Linked DNA regions of Homo sapiens. The protein of the gene in region 2 purifies or fractionates together with the protein of the main gene of each other region. This does not show direct contact. Each region holds a gene or a part of one and is shown on either strand. Other genes may lie near its edges. The genes, in order: ISCA1 and GCDH.

Region 1 (16,220 bases), on a different chromosome or scaffold from region 2:
GTACTATTAAAGAGTATGCAGTGAGGCAGCTGACAATGAAATTTTTCATAAAAATGTATAAAAAGGCTATGTTAAGTTTGGGTGGAAAAAACAATGCACCACCATATTACTACCAGCAGTCACGATGTCCTGTCTCAGATTTTAGGAGTCACCGATCTGGTTGGGAGAAATGCTGAGGGATGATCAAGCCATCAATAGCGATCTAAGGAGTGCACACAGTTCAGGAAATGGATAAACAGGTGCCCAGGAAGGCAACTTTAATGAAACTGGTTCTAAAACAAAGGATACAAGAGACCTAAATGATCCAAAAAGAGTGATGGCTTCTCATTTTCTGTCCCCTATAGAGAATATAAATATCATTTCTTCTGGAATCCAACACACTGGATTCATTTTCAAGATGTATCACTTTATTTTCCAGCACGTGACAGTCACATGATTTCTGCAGTGAGCCCCAAAGCTTCCACGAGCTTTCCTGGAACCTACGGCCAGAAGAGTCCTGAGATTTCAAATATTAAAGCTTTCTCCACAGCCACAAGTCCCTTTGATGTTTGGGTTATTGAACACAAACTCACTGGATAATTTGTCTTCAACATAGTCCATTTCTGTTCCTAAAAGTGTTAGCTGTGCTTTCTTTTCGATGAATACTCTGACTCCTTGGAGAAAAGAAAACATGTGTCATGGAAAGCCTGCAGCCTTATGGAACTTGCTGATTCAAAGCACAAGTGAACTTGAAATAGTGACTATCAATGAAAGTCAAACAAGAAGCCTTGAACATTTTAAATTATTTCCTTAAGGAATTAAGCATTCAGTTTCCTGTCTGCCCCTTCTTTCCCACACATGAATTTATGTCACAATCACATTAGGGGAGAATTTTATACAAGTAAATTCCATGACAATTTTATGCAAAATTAGAATTTACCTTTCACTATACTTCACTCATTTTTCCAGTTTGCAACATGAAGAAAATGTATATTCTCGATGAGTTTTATGAAATAAAAAAAAATTTATGAAAATTCTGCAATACACTAGATACACGGATTCAAGCTTAAAGATGTACAAAGGACTGTGATACAATGGGGCTATTTTAATAACATCAATCAGTACAACAATAGTCTTTTCTGGTTACAGGACGGAAAACAGGTACTATTCCCTAGTAATTACACAGGTAGAGGTCAGCATCTTTGTAAATACAATCTTTTTTTTTTTGGACAGAGTCTCACTCTGTCACCCCGGCTGGAGTGCAGTGGTATGATCATGGCTCACCACAAGCTCCACCTCCCAGGCTCAAGCGATCCTCCCACAGGATTACAGGCACATACCACCAGGACCAACTAATTTTTTTAGAGTCAGGGTTTCACCACGTGGCCCAAGCTGGTCTTGCATTCCTGGGCTCAAGTGATCCTCCCACCTCGGCCTCCCAAAGTGCTGGGATTACAGGTGTGAGCCACAGTGCCCAGCCAACAAATACAATCAATTTAAGAAAGCTTTCTAGTCTGGGAAACAGGGCAAAACCCTGGCTCCACTAAAAATACAAAAATTAGCCGGGCACAGTGGTGGGCACCTGTAGTCCCAGCTACTCGGGAGGCTGAGGTGGGAGGACTGCTTGAGCCCGGGAGACAGAGGCTACAGTGAACCATGATTGTGCCACTGCACTCCAGCCTGGGTAAGAGAGCAAGACTCTGTCTCAACAAACAAACAAAACAACGAAACAACAAAAAAACTTTCTTCCTTACAAGAAATTGAGCCATTAGCTAAATATAAACAATATATAATTAAGTCACCTCTTCTTTAAGATGAAAATCTTAAGGTTTATAATGTGTTATAATTTTTAAAATAATACATTTTTAAAAGGTCTTTATTGATAGTTATAACTTTAGTTTAATAAGAAAGCACACTTAGGAATCTAGGCCTCATTCTCCCATGTAGGTAAGAACTGCAAGCTAAGTGCATACTTCCAATGACAAGATAAATTATTTATTTTAGATAGGTTTTAACAGATTATAGGGTGGAAGAAGGGGGCAGCAGCAAATATAATTAATTTTAATTATAAATTAAATTATAATAAATAGCTTTGAATAAAAATTGGAAATACAGGATTCCTCAAAAACATGAGTTGATAATACAGCTCCACTAAAAATACAAAAATGAACCAGGCATGGTGGTGGGCGCCTATAATCCCAGCTACTTGGGAGGCTGAGGTGGGAGGATCGCTTGAACCAGGGAGGTGGAGGTTGCAGCAAGCCGAGATCACACCACTGCACTCCAGCCTGGGTGAGAGAGCGAGACCATCTCAAATTAAAAAAAAAAAAAAAAAAAGGATTATAATGGAGCTGAAAATTCCCATTGCCTAGCAATGCTGTAGCCACCATAATATCACAAGACAACCCATTACTCAGGTGTTTGTGGTGATGCTGGTGTAAACAAACCTATACTGCCAGTCATATAAAAGTCTAAGCATGTTCAATTATGTACACTACATAATACTTGATAATGATAATAAATGGTTATGTTACTGCTTTATGTATTTACTATACTTTTTATTGTTTAAAATTTTAGAGTGTACTTCTACTTATAAAAAAAAAAGTTAACCGTGAAACAGCCTGAGGCAGGTTCTTCAGGAGGTATCCAGAAGAAGGCATCATTATCACAGAAGATGACAACTCCATGAGTGTTACTGCCCCTGACGGCCTTCCAATGGGATGAGGGGAGGTGGTGGAAGACAGGGATATTGATGAACCTGACCCTGTGGAGGCCTAAGTTAATACGTGTGTTTTTGTCTTAGTTTTTAATTAAAATGTTTATAAAGAAAAAATTAAAAATAGAGAAAAGCTTATAGAATAAGAACGTAAAAAATTTTTGTTATTTGTACAATGTGTTTCAAAGCTAATGTTATCACAAAAGAGTCAAAAAAAAAAAAAAAAACCCCAAAGCTTACAAAGTAAAAAAGTTTCAGTAAACTAAGGTTAATTTATTATTGAAGACTAAGTGTACAAGGTTTATAAGGTCTATAGTACTACGGAGGAACGTCCTAGGCTTTCACATTCACTTATCACTCCCTACTCACTCACTGACTCACGCGGACAACTTCCAGTCCTGCAAGTTCCATGCATGGTAACTGCCACAAACAGGTGTACCATGTTTTATTTTCTTCTTCTTCTTCCTTTTTTTTTCTTTTTTTTAAGAGATGGAGGTCTCGCTATGTTGCCCAGGCTTAAGGGCAGTGGCTATTCACAGGTAAGAACACAGTGCACTATGATGTCTTTTTTTCTTTTTTGAGACAGAGTCTCACTTTTTCACCCAGGTTGGAGTGCAATGGCATGGTCTCGGCTCACTGCAACCTCCGCCTCCTGGGGTTCAAGCGATTCTCCTGCCTCAGCCTCCCAGTAGCTGGGACTACAGGCGTGTGCCACCACACCCAGTTAATTTTTTGTATTTTTAGTAGAGATGGGGTTTCACCATGTTGGCCAGGCTGGTCGTGAACTCCTGACCTCATGATCCACCCACCTCGGCCTCCCAAAGTGCTGGGATTACACAGGTGAGCCACCACGCCTGGCCAGTGCACTACATTCTTGAACTCCTACACTCAAGGAATCCTCCTGCCTCAGTCTCCTGAGTAGCTGGGACAACAGGCTTGTGTTAACACACCCGACCACATTTGATCTTTTACAAAATTTTCTTAAGCTGATAAGCAACTTCAGCAAAGTCTCAGGATACAAAATCAATGCACAAAAATCACAAGCATTCTTATACACCAATAACAGACAAACAGAGAGTCAAATCATGAGTGAACTCCCATTCACAATTGCTTCAAAGAGAATAAAATACTTAGGAATCCAACTTAAAAAGGACGTGAAGGACCTCTTCAAGGAGAACTACAAACCACTGCTCAATGAAATAAAAAAGGATACAAACAAATGGAAGAACATTCCATGCTCATGGGTAGGAAGAATCAATATCGTGAAAATGGCCATACTGCCCAAGGTAATTTATAGATTCAATGCCATCCCCATCAAGCTACCAATGACTTTCTTCACAGAATTGGAAAAAACTACTTTAAAGTTCATATGGAACCAAAAAAAAAACCCGCATCGCCAAGTCAATCCTAAGCCAAAAGAACAAAGCTGGAGGCATCACGCTACTTGACTTCAAACTATACTACAAGGCTACAGTAACCAAAACAGCATGGTACTGGTACCAAAACAGAGATATAGATCAATGGAACAGAACAGAGCCCTCAGAAATAACGCCGCATATCTACAACTATCTGATCTTTGACAAACCTGACAAAAACAAGCAATGGGGAAAGGATTCTCTATTTAATAAATGGTGCTGGGAAAACTGGCTAGCCATATGCAGAAAGCTGAAAGTGGATCCCTTCCTTACACCTTATACCAAAATTAATTCAAGATGGATTAAAGACTTAAACGTTAGACCTAAAACCATAAAAACCCTAGAAGAAAACCTAGGCATTACCATTCAGGACATAGGCATGGGAAAGGACTTCATGTCTAAAACACCAAAAGCAATGGCAACAGAAGCCAAAATTGACAAATGGGATCTAATTAAACTAAAGAGCTTCTGCACAGCAAAAGAAACTACCATCAGAGTGAACAGGCAACCTACAAAATGGGAGAAAATTTTCACAACCTACTCATCTGACAAAGGGCTAATATCCAGAATCTACAATGAACTCAAACAAATTTACAAGAAAAAAACAAACAACCCCATCAAAAAGTGGGCAAAGGACATGAACAGACACTTCTCAAAAGAAGACATTTATGCAGCCAAAAGACACATGAAAAAATGCTCGTCATCACTGGCCATCAGAGAAATGCAAATCAAAACCACAATGAGATACCATCTCACACCAGTTAGAATGGCAATCATTAAAAAGTCAGGAAACAACAGGTGCTGGAGAGGATGTGGAGAAATAGGAACACTTTTACACTGGTGGTGGGACTGTAAACTAGTTCAACCATTGTGGAAGTCAGTGTGGCGATTCCTCAGGGATCTAGAACTAGAAATACCATTTGACCCAGCCATCCCATTACTGGGTATATACCCAAAGGACTACAAATCATGCTGCTATAAAGACACATGCACACGTATGTTTACTGTGGCACTATTCACAATAGCAAAGACTTGGAACCAACCCAAATGTCCAACAGTGATAGACTGGATTAAGAAAATGTGGCACATATACACCATGGAATACTATGCAGCCATAAAAAATGATGAGTTCATGTCCTTTGTAGGGACATGGATGAAATTGGAAATCATCATTCTCAGTAAACTATCGCAAGGACAAAAAACCAAACACCACATGTTCTCACTCATAGATGGGAATTGAACAATGAGAACACATGGACACAGGAAGGGAACATCACACTCTGGGGACTGTTGTGGGGCGGGGGGAGGGGGGAGGGATAGCATTAGGAGATATACCTAATGCTAAATGATGAGTTAATGGGTGCAGCACACCAGCATGGCACATGTATACATATGTAACTAAGCTGCACATTGTGCACATGTACCCTAAAACTTAAAGTATAATAATAATAATAATAATAAAAGAAATTTCACTATACTTTTTCTTTGTTTAGGTACGTTTACACAAATACTTACCATTGTGTCAGAACTGTGCACAGTATTCAGCACAGTCACGTGCAGTACAGGTTTGTAGCCTAGGAGCAACAGGTTATATTATCTAGCTGAGGCATATGGTAGGCTCTACCATCTAGGTTTGTGTAAGTACACCCCAGGATATTTGTCCAATGTCACATTTCTCAGACCGTCTAGGTTTGTCTAAGTACACCCCAGGATATTTGTCTAACGTCACATTTCTCAGAATGTATCTCCAATGTTAAGTGATGTATGACTGTATCTGCATTATACTTACTGCTTGAGCATCCCAAATCCAAAAAGCTCCAATGAGCATTTCCTCTGAGTGTCATGTCAGCACCCACTTTTAAAGTTTTGAATTTGGGAGCATTTCAGATTTCAGATTTTTGGATTGGAATGCTCAACTCGTACTTATTTGACACAGATATAAAACTACTGCTTACACAAAAACTGTTGGTTCACTGTGAGGTTTAAGGCTGGTTCACTTTTTGGACACAACGATGATCTTTCATAGTTAAAACAAGCTTATATAATAATTTATCAATTAGTTACTAAGAGCAGTCTCTGGAAAGAATTTTACTAGGCCACTTATTATGACCTTAAACTATTTAACCCCTCTGTGCCTCAGTTTCTTCATCAGAAAAACAGGGATAATATGGTACCACCCACATTCAGCATTGTGTATAAATCAGTTAATACATGAAATTCCATCAAACAACACCTACACACACAGTGAGCATTATTTACATAATTCCTGCTACTATCCTTATTTTTTACTTTGTGCTGTGCAAGGCTAATAATTTTAGGCAAAACAATGTGCCCAAAAAATGTTTGTTAAAAACTCACCATCTTGAATAACTTCTTCATCAGAATCTCCTTTTGTCTTTGTATATTCTAGAGTATAAGAAAGGCCATTACAGCCCCTGGTTCGGACACCAACTTTTACACCTACCTGAAAAAGAAGTGAAAATATAAACTTGGTTTTAAAGTAGTACAGATTAAACAATTATACTAATAAAGTGACAGTAGCCTCCTCGTACCAAAATGGACTTTCTCTTATTTTTTGTAGGACAGGGTCTCACTATGTAGCCCAGACTGGTCTCAAACTCGTGGACTCAAATAACGCTTCCACCTCGGCCTCTCAAAGCATTGGGATTACAAGGCAGGAGCCACCCCGTCCAGCCTGGGACTTTATTTAAAATGTCTTTGCTCTACCTTGTTCTGTGAGATATCCTCTGAATGTTTCCTTATGGTTAGGATTCACCAGGGTTCATAGTCCACCATCTGGCAATCCTACCTCTACATGGGATCTGAATTATAGTGCAGACTTGTGTACAGTCTCAAATACCAGAAAGCAAAAGACTGCAGTCAATACAGACAAAAGAAGTTTAAAAAAGTGACCAAACAGCACTTTAAAAGTATCAATGTTTACATTAATGCAATTTTCAAACAGTATCTACCTAAGTTCTCTGTCTTAGAGCTGAGCTGATTTTTCATTTAAATACAGTCATCCCTTAGTATGCATGGGAAATTGGTTCCAGGACTAACTGAGTATACAAAAATCTGCAGATACTCAAGTCCCTTATGCAAATGGCACTGCATTTGTATATAACCTATATACATCTTCCCCTGTACTTTAAATAACTTCTGGAGGACTTGAATACCTGTAACAATGTAATGCTACATAAACAGTTGTTATACTGTATTGTTTAGAGAATGAAAGTCTGTACATGTTTAATACAGATGCAACCTTCTATTTTTTTCCCAAATATTTCTGACCTATGGTTGATTGAATCCACGTATGCGGAACCCACAGATACGGAGAGGTGACTGTATACAGCAAAAGTATCATAAGTACTATTTCACCAGCAGTTCCTGATTCTACAAAGCCGAATTCTTGTTTCATTAGGCCAATTTGTAGTCTACTCATCGGTCTATCCAAATTGAATCAGAACACTGATATCCTTTGAAATTTAATAATTTTAAAAGGTAGGTTTGAGAACTTCCATTACATTGTAATGTAGTAGGTTAACAACAGAAACCAGAAATCACCCCACCGTCTAATTATTAAATATTGCAATCCATTACTTGAAATGATTTACAGCATTCCATCGGCAACTAACAATGTACAATTAAGATGATACACACATCCCTAACTCAACAATTCTGTATCTAGGAATGGATCCTATGTAGGTGGACTAAGCCATGCTTACAGTTCTAGAACAATGAGCCTGGCACACTGCAGACACTAAATAGTTGCTGAATGGTGTTTGCGGCAGCACTGAATGAAAACGACCCTTTAATATGGGGACTGGTTAAAGAACTCAAACTTGTTCAATGGAATATACTCTACATGCAGCCAAGAAAGGGAGGCAGATCATTACATAATGACATGGAAAGATCTTCAAGCCATTATTAAGGGTAAAAAGCAAAGTGTAACAAAAAAATTTATGGTAGGAAGAGATATACACAGGAATAACAAGCCCAGTCTAGGCCAGTGGTTGCCCTCAGGGAGACATTTTTGGTTGTGACAACCAAAGCTTTGTGGAATCAGGAACTGCTGGTGAAATAGTACTCACCATACTTTTACTCTATACAGTCACCTCTCCGTATCGGTGGGTTCCACATATGTGGATTCTTTGGTTGAGGCAAAGAGGGGGTACTACTGGTATCTAATGGACAGAGGCCACAGATGCTGTCAAACATTCTACAATCTGCCCTAAAGTGTCAACTGTGAGGAGGCTGAGAAAATCAGGTCTAGCCGCTTCAAATGTATACATTATCCCTGGAAGGATACCAAAGAGATTGCTTCTTGGAAGGAAGAATGACGACGAAGAGTCAGGTTGAAAGAATGACTTCCTTTTAGTTAAATACCCTTTTGTATTATTTGAATTTTTTAAAAATCCTGAGTATATTTTACATTTTAAATAAAAACCCCTAAATGAAATAATACTGTATATCATGGGATAAATTCATTCTGAAAATGCAGCTTCAGTTTTTTACTGAATAATTAACTGGTTTTACTTACATGCTCAGGCTTATCTTTAAGAAGTTGTTTTATCTTGTTTACTGCTGAAGGTGTCTGAAAAAAGAAAATGATGTTTTTAGCTACAAAACTTGTTATTCAAAGCCTCATATTTATCAGTCTTCGTAAGTCTGTCTTTAGCAAATTCATGTGACAAATTTATGTTCCATTCTTGCCAGGGTACCTTATGGACTTTATATAGAAACACATAAACTATACCTAATTCAAAATATCCTCTTTATTTAAAAAAAAAATCTGCTAGCAACATCCTTTTAATCTTGCTCCTCAGTCCAGGTTGGTTCCCTGTCCTTCTCTCTATGGTGCTATTCACTCACATTACAAATGCTATTTTTCTGGGCAGCATCTATTTTGTGCACCAACTCTATGCCCAGGAACCAGCATGTTGCCTACGACAAAGAGCCAATGAAGGAATCAAGTATCTCACTGGGAAGGCCAACCTTCAGGTGTTTTTCCTGTTGATTATTAATCCTACTGCTTTTTTTTTTCTTACTCACAATCCATTTCTAATCCATCAAAATGCATAGCTTGAGGAAACAGTGTTACCAGCATAAAATAACCCAGGGTGTGCTTCTTGCACCAGTCCCACCAAATGCTCACATAGATTTTTTTCAACGTGGATTAAACCAACATCTCAGGAGATCTAGATGAACAAAACTAAGCTAGTCAATGACAGAAATAAGAACAAGGAGGAGCTGTTTCCCAGAGAAATGCTGTTTTAACATAGCTCAGCGGGCCTCAAAATGAGAAAAACATCACAGTTTGTGTGAAATAGGTCGGTGTTGCCAACCCCACTTCTTTGGGAAGGAGACTGTTCCCCGACATTCCTGGCCCACTTCCTAGCTGTGCCTCCAGGGCAGTCACCCTAAGTGGCTTCTCTGACTTCTATTCCCTTACTGGTGAAACAGGGATAACAGTTCCTCCTCCTCCTGATTCTTGTGAGGATTAAATATTTAAACTCATGGAAAGCATTCAGGACAGTGCCAGGCACAAAAATACCAAGTATTATTATGATTATGAGAGTACATCATAATGAAGACATTATGTGCGTCCTTCCTACTTTATCAGCTCCTCTAGCTGGCAGTGCTCTGCAGGCCCTCCAGTCCCTTGTACTGACATTTTACTGTACAGTAAAGTCTTTGAGACTGCTTGTGAAGTCTCAAAGTCTGGATATTACGACCTAAGACTTGGTAGTAAACTGAGGCCAGGACTGACACCTGGAAGAGCCAGCCCAATGGATGGCCCTAGAGTGTGCTCTCCTGCCCTGTCGGGGTTGGGGCTCAGCTAGATGAGCATGCTTAAACACAGTACAGACCCAGTTTAGAAGGGCATGAAAGCAATTTGGAATGTGAAGACCAACATGTCTTAAACATTTTAAATAGAAAACAATGCACTGCACTTAAAAACGTGAATGTTGTTTAGTAAAACTTTTAATTCAGTTATTAATATATAGTATCTGTGTATATACATTTCTTATTACATGTCACTGTAAAAAAACAAACCACTACCAGTAGGTGGGCCTCTAAAGGCCCATGGTTTCCCATGGTTCTGTCAGAAAAGGAGGCATGCAGTCCTCCAACGCAGGAAGTAGCACACAGGGTGGAAGGAGAAAACAGGGAAGAGCAGGATTATGGTTTTGTTTTTGTTTTTTGAGTCACAGAATACCAACTTTAAATAGTTACAGAAATAGTTATTATTTTTTAAAGTGCTCATTACCCTTCTAAAGCAGTGGTCCCAAATGTTTTTGGCATCAAGGACTGGTTTCGTGGAAGACAATTTTTCCACGGATAAGGGGAATGGTTTCTGAATGATTCAAATGCATTACATTTATTGTGCACTTTATTTCTATTATTACATTGTAATATATAATGAAATAATTATATAACTCATCAAAATATACAATCAGTGGGAGCCCTGAGCTTGTTTTTCTGCAACTAGATGGCCCCATCTAGGGGTGATGAGAGACAGTGACAGATCATCAGGCATCATTCTCATAAGGAGTGCACAAACTAGCCCCTCACACCTGCAGTTCAGACTAGGGTTTGTGCTCCTATGAGAATCTAATGCCCCTGATGATCTGACAGGAGGTGGAGCTCGCTTAGGTGGTAATGCTTGGCTTGCCTGCTGCTCTCACCTCCTGCTGTGAGGCCCTGTTCCTAACAGGCCATGGACCAGTACCAGTCTGTAGCGCAGGGACTGGGGACCCCTGTTCTAAGTGATTGTCAATAAAAGCTAGCTTTCTTATCAACCACATGTAAATTTTCACCATATTTTCCTATGTGCATGCTGAAGAAATTAATCACTTACTGTCAAATAAAAATAGCTTTCTGTAAGTTTATTTTAAAAAGGCATAGCCTGGCTGGGCCTGGTGCCTCATGCCTATATTCCCAACACTTTGGGAGGCCGAGGTGGAAGTATCACTTGAGGTCAGCCAAGGTGGAAGGATCACTTGAAGTCAGGAGTTTGAGACCAGCCTGGCCAACATGGTGAAACCCCGTCTCTATTAAAAATACAAACATTAGCTGAGGATGATGGCATGCGCCTGTAATCCCAGCTACTCCGGAGGCTGACGCATGAGAATCGCTTGAACCCAGGAGGCGGAGGCTGCAGTAAGCCGAGATCATGCCACTGCACTCCAGCCTGGGAAACAGAGTGAGACTCTGTCTCAAAAAAAAAAAAAAAAAAAAAAAAAAGGCATAGCCATGGAAAATATCCGCGGGAACTAAAATCTGAAACGTGGTCTTGGTTTAATCTGAGTGGATCAAAGGCACAGATGGGCACACCACTGCATGATCTAAACAAAACAAATGTGTCTGTCACACTACTCCGTTTACCAGCCCCAAATATATAATTTTTTTTATCTCCAAGTGGTTTTCTAAATTATCTAATTTGGTTTTACAAAGTCATCTATTTTCTTATTTTCTCAACTTTTAGCAGGAAACACTTAAATACAGTAAATGAAAGCAATTCGTGGGGATTGGTCTACTTATCACCAAGTTGCTGATGTTCACATCTCATACTGAAGGACTCTTTAAGGGAAAAGTAACATTCAACAGGAACCTGTGTGCCTGGGAAGCTGCTGTTACAGGAACTAAAATATGTCTTAATTTTCCTGTGCCAGGCCAAAACCAAACCTACTCCACTGGGAGGGTGTTACTAATGATGGACAACCCAGGTCAGTACTCAACCAAGGGAAAAGGTTCTTAGAACTTTCAAAGTGACTGATCTGATTTTCAGAACAAGGGAGAGTGGTTAAAAGGGAAGAGTTGGGACTTAAAAAAAATCGAGCTATAAGAGGTACTTTTTGTGTCTCAGTACCAGGGAGAGGCTAAGAATCCTACCCTGCTTTAAGTCTACATACTCTGGCAACTTTGTGCTTAGGTAAAATTCATGTGAGAAACAGCATAAAATCTTCAACTACACAGCATGCTGCAGGGCCTAGCAGCCTGCCAGTACCAGTGCACTTCCCAGAACAACTAAGAAACATGTAATTCTCAAGAAATTTATGTACTATTAATGAATATAGCTTACCTGAGATTTGGCCCATGTTTTAAAATTTAAGAGCTTCCTGAAGCCCACTAAAATATGATGGTTTTTACTCACATGCAAATCACAGGAATATGACTTTTAAAGTGAGAGGTTATCTTTGAGGTAAGGTATTTTGGCCTAATTGAAAAATAAATATATTTCCAAGATGTTTCCGCTGTTAAAATTAAGGGAAAAGGCATTGTAGATGAATGTTTTATCACTACTTCATAGCAACACGCTTTCTAATCCTTGTAGGAGAAACTTTTCATTCTCAATCCTGTATTTCTTTAAGTAACTCCCCAGGCAATTTTCATTTTTTGCTGTTTAAGAAAATTAAATTAAATTCAAAGCTAAAGTTAACTCTGTGATTATGCATACTAAACATGTGCCAACAACTACAACTTAATTTCTCTACAAACATGGCATTTTAATGTCAACATATCAATTTTCTGGGGGAACAAAAGATGGTAAATAAATAGAGCCAGTGAACAAGTACAGTGTATTTTATTAAAATCATTCTTTAACAGCCATGGCTGGCATTAGAGTGTCAAAATAAGAAAAGACAAAAGCATTCTCTTTTGTCTTTTCTTATTTGTGTATATGTGTATATACACATCCAAAATACATATAATATACAAATATATATTTGTAGGCCAGGTGTGGTGGCTCATGCCTGTAATGCCAGCACTTTGGGAGGCCAAGGTGGGAGGACGGCTTGAGGCCAGGAGTTTGAGACCAGCCTGTGCAACAGAGCAAGACCCTGTCTCTACAATAAATTAAAAAAAAAAAATTAGCAGTCAAGGTGACATGTGCCTGTAGTCCCAGTTACTTGGGAGGCTGAGGTGAAAGGATTGCTTGAGCCCAGGAGTTTGAAGCTGCAGTAAGCCATGATCATGCCACTGCATATGAGCCTGGGTGACAGAGGAAGATCCTGTCTCTAAAAAGAAAAAGGTTTGTAATCATGGCATATATACATAATTTTGCAGCCTCCATTGAAACAATTTAACAAATTATTTTTTCATTTGATACATGGTAATAAACATATATTCACCATTTACTGAGCACCTTCTAAGTGTTTAATGGTTTAAACGTAACATCTTTTTATTCCTGCCATTGTGATTTAGGTATTAAAGATTAAATAATTTGCACAGCATAAGTCAAAGAATGAAGATTTATAACGCTGAAACTTAAAAAAAACCATAATTTACAATGACTACATCCTTCACCAACAGGATCTACTCTCACGTACTTAACCGTTCTTTCACTGTTAGACTGCTAGGCTACTTCCAGTGCTTCTTGTGTAGTATTTCCTAAACTGCCTTCGTATAGAAATCTTAGTGCTTGGTCACTGTTCAAAAGGACTTCTGGTTCTAGTCCAATGAACTAACACACAGTTCCTTACTGAGCATTAAGCATTTCCTAGCTTCTCAACTGGACTCCAATAGAAAGTTAAGCCCTAAGGCACCTTCCGTACACAATGAATTCATCAAGAATGATAGTGGCTGTGCACCATCATTCTCTCATAGAACTTGGTTGAGTTTTAATGCACAGCTGTGATCCACCCCAGTCCTACAAATTAGAGTTGCTCTGACTTGTACAATGATGGAAATAAATCTGTCTGCAAGCAGGGCACTATTTACTCTTCAGATTCTTTAATCACATCTGGCTCCTGCAAGTTCAATTCCACTTGTCAATTTCTAGATATGTAGGGAAATAGGGAAGATGTAGATAATCTGATAATGACAGCATTGAACTGTGTTATATTATCAGTTACTTTTCCTAGCCTTTTGTTGACATCTGGTAGACTCCACACATATAGCACTTTTCAAATGTTGCAACATGTCAAATTCCTAACATCAAAATTTATATATCCAGGTAACATTTATCCCTTCCAATCAGTTTTACTGAATTAGGTATACTTGTGTTTGCTCTTATCTGTCTCTACTTATTAGACCCAAGTAACATTTACCTCTTCCAATCAGTTTTACTGAATTACGTATACTTTTGTTTGCTCTCTTATCTGTCTCCATTCATTAGGCCTTTGACGGCATCACTACTTTTGCACTTGACGATACATGCTGATGATAAACTAAGCACAAAGAGCAATACATGCCATAGTGTCCTGACTAGGGCACGAATGCTGGAACTAAAATGACTGCAAGCCCACCAACACAGGCTGTGTGGAAAACAGCATTGATGTGCCTTCTCTCTGGTACAGCTTCTGAGAAGCTTCTAAAGTCAGCCATACTTAAGTAGGACAACAGAGTACAGACAGTAGACTCCTGCAAGTTAATCAAAACAGCTGAGTCAGGCAACATGGATACCTTGAGAACTGCTATGATAACATGTACTGAAGCAGAGGGGAGCAAGTGTGGAGAGAGACCAAGCCTGAGAATGTGCAGTGCTATTACTCCTAGTAAGAGGTGGCAAAGGCTTGGCCTGCGACTGTGCCCCGTAGGCTGGGAACTGTATAACTCATTCATTTGTCTTGAAACACAGCAGATCTTGATAAATGTCTGCTGAATGACTAGGAATGGAGAGAAAGGGACTGACATAGAAATTCTGAAGGAAGGGCAAGGCACGGTGGCTCATGCCTGTGATCCCAGCACTTTGGGAGGCTGAGACGAGTGGATCACGAGGTCAGGAGTCCAAGACCAGCCTGGTGAAGATGGTGAAACCCCATCTCTACTAAAAATACAAAAATAAATAAATAAATAAGCTGGGCATGGTGGTGGGCGTCTGTAATCCCAGCTACTCAGGAGGCTGAGGCAGAGAGTTGCTTGAACTCAGTAGGCAGAGGCTGCAGTGAGCTGAGATCACGCCACTGCACTCCAGCCTGGGCAACCCAGCGAAACCCTGTCTCAAAAAAAAAAAAAAAAAAAAGAAATTCTGAAGGAAGAGGTAACATGTCAAATGGTGATGGAGAAAGACATCAGGGACCAGGCATGGTGGCTCACACCTGTAATCCCTGCACACTGGGAGCCTGAGGCAGTGGACTGCTTGAGCCCAGGAGTTCGAGACCAGCCTGGGCAACCCAGGGAGACCCTAGGTGCATGCATGACGGTGCACACCGGTGGTCCCAGCGACTTGGGAGCCTGAGGTGGGAGGATCGCTTGGGCCCAGGAGGTTGACGCTGCAGTGTGCCATGATTGCACCACTGAACTACAGCCTGGGAGATAGAGTGAGACCCTGTCTCCAAAAACAAAACAAACAAAAACAAACAAACAAACAAAAAACAAAAAACAAAAAACCCAGTTAATAGGGTTGCTAAAAAGCAAAAAAGAAAAGGCAAAAACTGTTCCTGAACCTTCTGGCTCTTCCTGGATCTACCATTACCAGTGGAAGAATTCTGAATAATTCTTACTGAGATTGAAAGAGACACAAAGAATGAGTTGTGCCCTCTAGTTCTTAAAACCTTGTTTAATTCTACATCCCACGGTGTATGAAAATAAGCTTGCTCCTACAGAAAAGAGGTAATATAGAATGATACATAATCAGTACACTAGTAGTACCATATATAATCAGGGTAATATCAAAGGCCTAAAAAATTGATTATAAAAATAAATTCTCTCACCTGATCACAATTTTCTTCTACTTTGCTACAAACTTATTTTCTGGTAATAGGCCCTTTTGGCATTAGATGCAACAGAATCGATGAGTCAATTTAAATCGTTTTTTTTCCCAGTCTCTAAGCGAATGGTTGCATAAAGTCGTCTCCTTCACTAAAAGGGGAGTGTATGTAGGAACGTGATCATAAATTTTTCTTTTGGGGTGAAAGTATTTTGGAACTAGATAGAGGTGATGGTTGCACGACACTGTGAATGTCTTAAATGGCACTGAATTGTACCCTTTAAAAGGACTAATTTTATGTTATGTGGATTTTCCTTCCACTAAAAAACTGAACGGTGCGGCCGGAACACTGAGCTCAGTGAATTCTCTAAGTAATCAATGGTTGCACTCTGGTGCCCTCTGAGTGTTTGACCTTTCACCCAGAAAAGGCTGTAAACTCACTCTGGGAAATCATCTT
Region 2 (6,579 bases):
CGTGGAGACTGTGTACAAAGACCTGTGTCTCCAGCCTGAGGTATGAGTAAACTCACAGGGGGGGCGCTGCCTGAGGAAGAGGACAGGGATGGCCCAGCCAAGAGTAAATGTGAACAGAAACCAGGCACCCAGCCCTGACCCCGCCAGGCCACAGTCCCTGCAAAGCCCTTGGTGCACTCACCATCTTGTTTGTGATCCCCTATAACATGGTGTGTCTGAGCTGAGAAGCCAAACCGTTGTCATGTCCCACTGTTGTATGAGCAGCTCTGTGGTGACAGAAAGGACAAAGTCCCTTGCACCCCTGCCACTCAGAAATCATCCCCTCTGCCCACAGCCCTGGCACAGACCGGCACTGCTAACCTGGGTTTCTTTTTTACAGCAGAGCCTAAGACTCAGATGGGGGCCAGACCACTCTAGGGGAAAGTCCCCACCACGTCCCGGCAACTCACAGCCCCCAGACGTGTTCGTTTCTTCTGTGGCTGAAACTACTTCTCAGGTGGTTACCAGTAAACCGGCCTGACACCTTGGGGTCAGATGTGCAGGTCTTTATTTTCCTCTCCCTCACTCTGCTCCAACACCCAGCATAAGGCACTACCCCCAGATGGGAGGGAGGGAGGGCGCACTGTGAACTCAGTGTGAGGGGGTCAGCTGCAGCAGACGGAGTTGCTTCCATGTCACTCTCCTCTCAAGAGAAGCTGCTATTTCAGGGTAAATGGAGTCTGCTCTCATCCATGGTTAAAAGTGGATTGAGACGCTCTACAGAGAATTCCATCTTCTTTTTAAGGAACACATCTGAACGACTTCAGAAGGGAAATTTTGATATTTAAAAATCAGTGTCTCTCACTTCCCACTCCATCCGCCACCTCCCTTTCTAAGCTCAGAGCACAGCGCTCCTACGGTCCAGCCAGGCATCTCTCCAGAAAGGGGCTTGAGAGTTTCGGGCCCCTGATGGAGCGGCTCACTTGCTGGCCGTGAACGCCTGGATTCCCGTGATAGCTCTCCCAAGGATCAGGGCGTGAATGTCATGTGTACCTGGACAAGATTAATACAGAGTCGGTTTGGAGTTTTCATAGCTCACAACTTCCCTTTAAAATCAATTTTCATGTATCCCCAGGCCACTGCTTCAGAAGTACAGACCAACAGAGATGGTGAATGCTGACAGCTGCCGGGAGACTCACGCCTTAGTGACAGTCTCCAGGAGAAGACTGTGAGGCCACCATTTGGGCCACACTGAGAAATTGTTTTTCATGGTTCTATAATGCATCTTGGCAGAAAAAAACAAAAACCCAAAGCTCCTTGTGCTGAACTCCCAAAATGTAGCAAGTCCAGCCCCTGCCATAGGCCCAGGCTTCGTGCTCCCCACCCTTGGCAAGTTCTCCCCACCCCCAGCCCCACAGTTTATTAAATGTTTGATTTTCAACCTGGCCACGCTTCCTTGCCACAGAGGCTGAAAGCACCCCTGAGCTCCAAGGAAACACAGCAAGCCCTTTCTTACCCTCGGGAGGGATAGGAGGGACAGCACATCGGAAGAGCAGTCACTTGCCTCAGCTGACCTCTGCCCATCTGAAGCCGCCTCTCCCAGAGAATCCCACACCCCATGCCCTGGTGTCTCATCCTTTGCTCCTCCCCAGCTCCTTGAAGCAGAAGGCAGATTGTAGCCTCCTTTTTAGAGCCAATTCTGTTTACTTCCTAAAGTACAAACCTATTTTTTTTAAATATAGATAGGGTCTCACTCTGTCACCCAGGCTGGAGTGCAGTGGGGTGATCATAGCTCATCATAACTTCTAACTCCTGGGCTCAAGCAATCCTCCTGCCTTAGCCTCCCAAAGCGCTGGGATTACAGGTGTGAGCCACTGCGCCGAGCCCCTAAAGCACCAAATCTGACTCATCCCTTCTCTGCATAAAACCATCTCATGGCGCCCGCTGCTTGTCCTCAGGGTCATTCTCACATTTGTAGGATCCCCCCACCCCCCAGATGCCAGATAGAGACAAGATCTGGGGTTGCAAGGTGCGCAGGGAAGGCACCCCTCCTGCATTTGCTGTTCTCTCTGTCTGGAAGCATCTCTGCCCGGGGGGTCCTCATACCTCCCTCTATTTCTACATAGCGCATGCTGGGTTTGCACTTTTTTTTTTTTTTTAAGTATCTTTTTCCACATCTGTCTTCCCACCAAGCAAGGGGTTCTGGACCCCCATGTAAATCACCATCAGTTACAGGGTGCAAACACCGTCATCTGAAGATGACTTTTGTCTCTTAACAAAATGGAGCGTTGATTCCTGCGTGTAGCTTCGCTCACTCCCTTGCGTCCACCAGCCTGCTAGGAGTCGGGCCTCACCCCTGGGCTGCCTTCGGAGCTTACCTGTCTCAGGAACATCCCTCCTCCCGAGCATGTGGGAGAAAGAGCTGGGAGCCCCTCGCAAGGCCTGATGGGGCCTCTGTGTGCTGCATGAAGCACTTCACTTCCACAGTCCCCATGTGAGTAACTCCAGATGAGGGACAGAGGGGTAAGGCTCGCCCCAGGTCACACTGTCACTTAGTGATAGGTGGAGTTGGACTCAGACCTGTCCCCGTCCCACCTCCCTGTACCCCCTCCCCAGACACTGAGGCCTCAGTGAGCCCTCTGAGGTCCAGCTCCTACCTTCGTAGGTGTTCACGGCCTCCAGGTTCATGGCGTGCCGGATCACGTGATACTCGTCAGAAATCCCATTCCCCCCCAGCATGTCTCGGGCCTGGCGGGCGATGTCCAGGGCTTTCCCACAGTTATTCCTCTTCAGCAGAGAAACCATCTCGGGGGCAGCCCTGGGAGTGGCACATGAGGGTAACAAGGACTGGGGATCCTGGCATCCCGATGCTCCAAGCAAACCTAGCCCGGGGTGGGGATTCCCTGATGCAGCCAAGCTCCCAATGAGGGACCAGTGGGGCTGTCCTCAGCCCAGCCCATCAAGGACAAGAGGGACAGCAGAAGGTTCAGGTCCCCAGGGCCACCAGGCAGGAAGGACCTTTCTCTCCAGGAAGGACACAAGGTCCTCCAGCCACCGCTGCCATCCCCCCGCCCCCACCACACAGCCCCTACTTGTCCTGGTCCTTCAAGCGGCCGAGCTGCAGGCAGGCGTGAAGGCCCAGGGTAATCTCAGTGAGCATGTCTGCCAGCTTCTTCTGAATCAGCTGGTTCCTGGCCAGTGGGACACCAAACTGCATCCTACATGGGCAATGGCAGGGTAAGAGCGAGGGGAGGCCCACTCTCCCACCCCGTCCCTGTCCTGGGGCCCCCTGCTCCAGGACGCCTTCCCAGGCTGCCTCAGTGCCCCCAAGCTTGCCCTGGCCCTGCCGTTGACTCAGCCCACAGCTGCTCAGAAGGACGTCACTGGTCATTCCAGAGCAAGGAACTCAGGCCTGGTGGGTGGGGGCTGGGGAGTCACCCATGGTATAGAGAGTGAAACCCAAGCTGCCCCACACCCCCAGAGAATCTCACTGCAGCCCTCACACACCTGTCGAGGGCGTACTGCCGGGCTGTGTGCAAGCAGAACTCCGAAGCTCCAAGCACGCCCCACGCGATGCCGTACCGGGCGTTGTTCAGGCAGCCGAAGGGACCCTGTAGGGTTGAGATGGCGCCTCAGGCCCACCCAAGAGACACCAAGAGGGCCTATGCAGAACCAACTCTGAAGCAGGGAAAGCCTCCTCCCCAGCCACCCCACGCAGGGGGACTCAGGTTGTGGTTCACATCACAGATGGCCCTGGCACTGAAGCTCGGTGCCTGCTCACTCGGTTTGCACACAGTCCCACCCAGCCTGGCATCTGGGTTCGATGCTCAGAGCCAGGAGGCTGACGGATGCCAGAAGATGCACTGTGAGTCAAATGACTGAGCTGGTTCAGGCCCATGTGTCCCGGGCAGAGCCGGGATGAGCGAGACGGTCACCAAATGGGGGCAGTTTTCAGCACGTCAGCGAGTCCGGCTGAGTAAGAATCACCACTGTGTGGGCTCCACAGGCACAGGGAGCCGCGTCCCCAGCACGGAGCCTGCCTGACAAAGCCGCATCCGCAGGTGACCCAACACCCATTCCCAAAGTGGCTGCCACTTACCCCCAGGCTGGATGCACCAGGGAGCACATTCTCCTCTGGCACCTCCACACCGTCCATGATGATCATGCCTGTGGCTGAGGCCCGCAGCGAGAACTTGCCCTGGATCCTGGGGGCCGAGAGACCCCGCATCCCCTTCTCCAGCAGGAAGCCCCGAATGCAGCCATCTTCACACCGAGCCCACACTACAAACAGATCGGCCATAGGCGAGTTCGTGATCCTGGGGATGGAACAGTCGGTGAGGGGTCTGACCAGTGCCCCTTTGCCCCTGTTCACCACCTGCCCACCACCCAGAACCCTTACCAGGTCTTGGTCCCATTGAGGGTGTAGCTCTTGTTGGATGAGTTGTAGTGGGCTCTGGTCTCCATGCTGCTGGGGTCACTTCCGCTGTTGGGCTCTGTGAGCCCGAAGCAGCCCAGGAGCTCCCCCTTGGCTGCAGGCACAAGACAAAGTCACAAGGCTGCCTGGTCCCTGATACATCCCCTTACTCAAAAATTATCCTCGTGGCGGGGTGCAGTGGCTCACGCCTGTCATCCCAGCACTTTAGGAGGCCAAGGCAGGTGGATCAATTGAGGTCAGGAGTTCCAGACCAGCCTGGCCAACATGGTGAAACCCCATCTCTACTTAAAAAAAAAAAAAAAAAAAAATAGCCAGATGTGGTGGTGGGTGCCTGTAATCCCAGCTACTCAGGAGACTGAGGCAGGAGAATCGCTTGAACCCGGGCAGGAGAGGTTGCAGTGAGCCAAGATCATGCCACTGCACTACAGCCTGGGCAACAGAGCAAGACTCCATCTCAAAAAAGAAAAAAAATCCAGCCTGACCAATATGGTGAAACCCCATCTCTACTAAAAATACAAAAAATTAGGCCAGTCGAGGTGGCTCACACATGTAATCTCAGCACTTTGGGAGGCCAAGGCAGATGGATCACTTGAGGTCTGGAGTTCGAGACCAGCCTGGCCAACATAGTGAAACACCATCTCTACTAAAAATACAAAAATTAGCCAGGCACGGGTAGCAAGCACCTGCAATCCCAGCTAATTGGGAGGCCGAGGCACAGGAATTGCTTGAACTGGGGAACCGCAGGTTGCAGTGAGCCAAGATTGTACCACTGCACTTCAGCCTGGGGGACGGAGCGGGACTTTGTCTCAAAAAAAGAAAAAAAAAATTACCCTCGCCCCTGAGTCAGACCTCATAACTAAGTTAGATCTGGCCCTGCTTTCAAGAGACAGGTTACCCCAAAGTCATGATCACAATGCCAAGATGGGGAGGGGGACCCAGGGAATCAGGAAGGAGTTGGCCAAACTGGAAGGGTGTGAGGAGTTAAGCAGGAGGAGGCTGTGGGGAAGAGCAGTGCTGGGAGAGGGAACAGATGTGTAAAGAACTGGTGGTACTTCTGGAGAATTTCAAGTAGCTAAGTCTGGCTGGGAGGATCACATGAGTGGCCAGAGATGAGGTGGAAAGGTCAGCAGAGGCCTGGTCACACAGGGCCTTGTGGGTTTTTTTTTTTTTTTGCGAATCTGATCTTATTTGTTACTCAAAAAATCTTATTTCTGACTGGATTCAGACTTAGAAGTGGAAGCTCGCAGAGAGGACAGTCTGCGTCTCTTCACGATTTGTCCCTGGTGCTTCTTAGCCTCCTTCATTCTCTTGGCCAAAAGTTTAGCATATTCTGCAGCCTCTTCTTTATTTTTCTTAATATGCGGCTGCTTCAGAGCAATACGCCGCTGTTTGTGCTGCAGGACATGTGGAGTGACAAGGCGCTGAATCTTGGGTGCTTTGGTCCTAGGTTTCTTACCTTCTTTGTTTAAGGGCTTTTTTACAACATACTGGCAGACATCATTTTCTTTAGAGAGACTGAAAAGTTTACGGATTCTGCTAGCTGTACTGGGCCCCAGGTGACGAGGCATCATAGTCTCAGTCAGTCCAGGAATACCCTTCTCTCCTTTTTTTTACAATAACCAAGTTGAGAACACTCAGATTGGCATCCACGATGCAACCATGAACTGATCTTCTCTTTCTTTCTCCAGTTCTCCTTGGTCTGTAATAGGAATGCCCCTTACTCAGTAGCAAGTGGACACGGCCATGGGTCAAGACACCCTGTTTCAAGGGGAAACCTTGTTTATTGTTCCCACCACTGATTCCGACCACGTAACCCTTCCATTCTTCACCCAGAGCGTCAACAGCAACTTCTGTGGCCATACGCTTCTCATAAAAAGTACAAAGTTTGCGTTCATCGTCCACTTCAATGAGTTTCTGGCAGCCAGTGGCTGGGAAGGAGATGTTCAGCTTCATCTTGAAGCAGCTGAACACCTCCGAGACACCACGGAAGAGGGCCAACGTCCACTTAGCGCAGGTCACATAGGCTCTTTCCTTTTTTTGTTTTTCTAATAGACATGGGGTCTCCTTACGTTGCCCAGGCTGGTTTCGAACTCTTGGGCTCAAGGGATCTTCTCACTTCACCCTCCCAAAGTGCTGGGATTATAGGTGTGAGCCACTGCAAATGG

The links.
Region 1: the proteins of GCDH (region 2) and ISCA1 purify together in Homo sapiens (affinity purification with mass spectrometry; 2 studies listed by BioGRID and IntAct, with this or other methods). This does not show direct contact.

Annotation. Positions count from the first base shown.
Region 1 is NC_000009.12:86,265,539-86,281,758, forward strand, and holds part of ISCA1 (iron-sulfur cluster assembly 1 homolog, mitochondrial precursor), read right to left. Parts: intron 15,916-16,220; exon of another isoform or gene 12,679-15,915; intron 8,705-12,678; coding exon 8,651-8,704; intron 6,575-8,650; coding exon 6,469-6,574; intron 654-6,468; coding exon 505-653; 3' UTR 1-504. UniProt on the Homo sapiens protein: Involved in the maturation of mitochondrial 4Fe-4S proteins functioning late in the iron-sulfur cluster assembly pathway. Probably involved in the binding of an intermediate of Fe/S cluster assembly.
Region 2 is NC_000019.10:12,893,921-12,900,499, reverse strand, and holds the end of GCDH (glutaryl-CoA dehydrogenase, mitochondrial isoform a precursor), read right to left. Parts: intron 6,407-6,579; exon of another isoform or gene 5,589-6,406; intron 4,509-5,588; coding exon 4,379-4,508; intron 4,296-4,378; coding exon 4,079-4,295; intron 3,591-4,078; coding exon 3,487-3,590; intron 3,198-3,486; coding exon 3,072-3,197; intron 2,798-3,071; coding exon 2,637-2,797; intron 1,715-2,636; exon of another isoform or gene 1,160-1,714; coding exon of another isoform or gene 1,115-1,159; intron 1,033-1,114; coding exon 959-1,032; 3' UTR 801-958; coding exon of another isoform or gene 757-800; 3' UTR 501-756; downstream 1-500. Other genes in the region: SYCE2 (synaptonemal complex central element protein 2), read left to right, coding at 1-40, 380-496, 1,115-1,159. UniProt on the Homo sapiens protein: Catalyzes the oxidative decarboxylation of glutaryl-CoA to crotonyl-CoA and CO(2) in the degradative pathway of L-lysine, L-hydroxylysine, and L-tryptophan metabolism. It uses electron transfer flavoprotein as its electron acceptor. Isoform Short is inactive.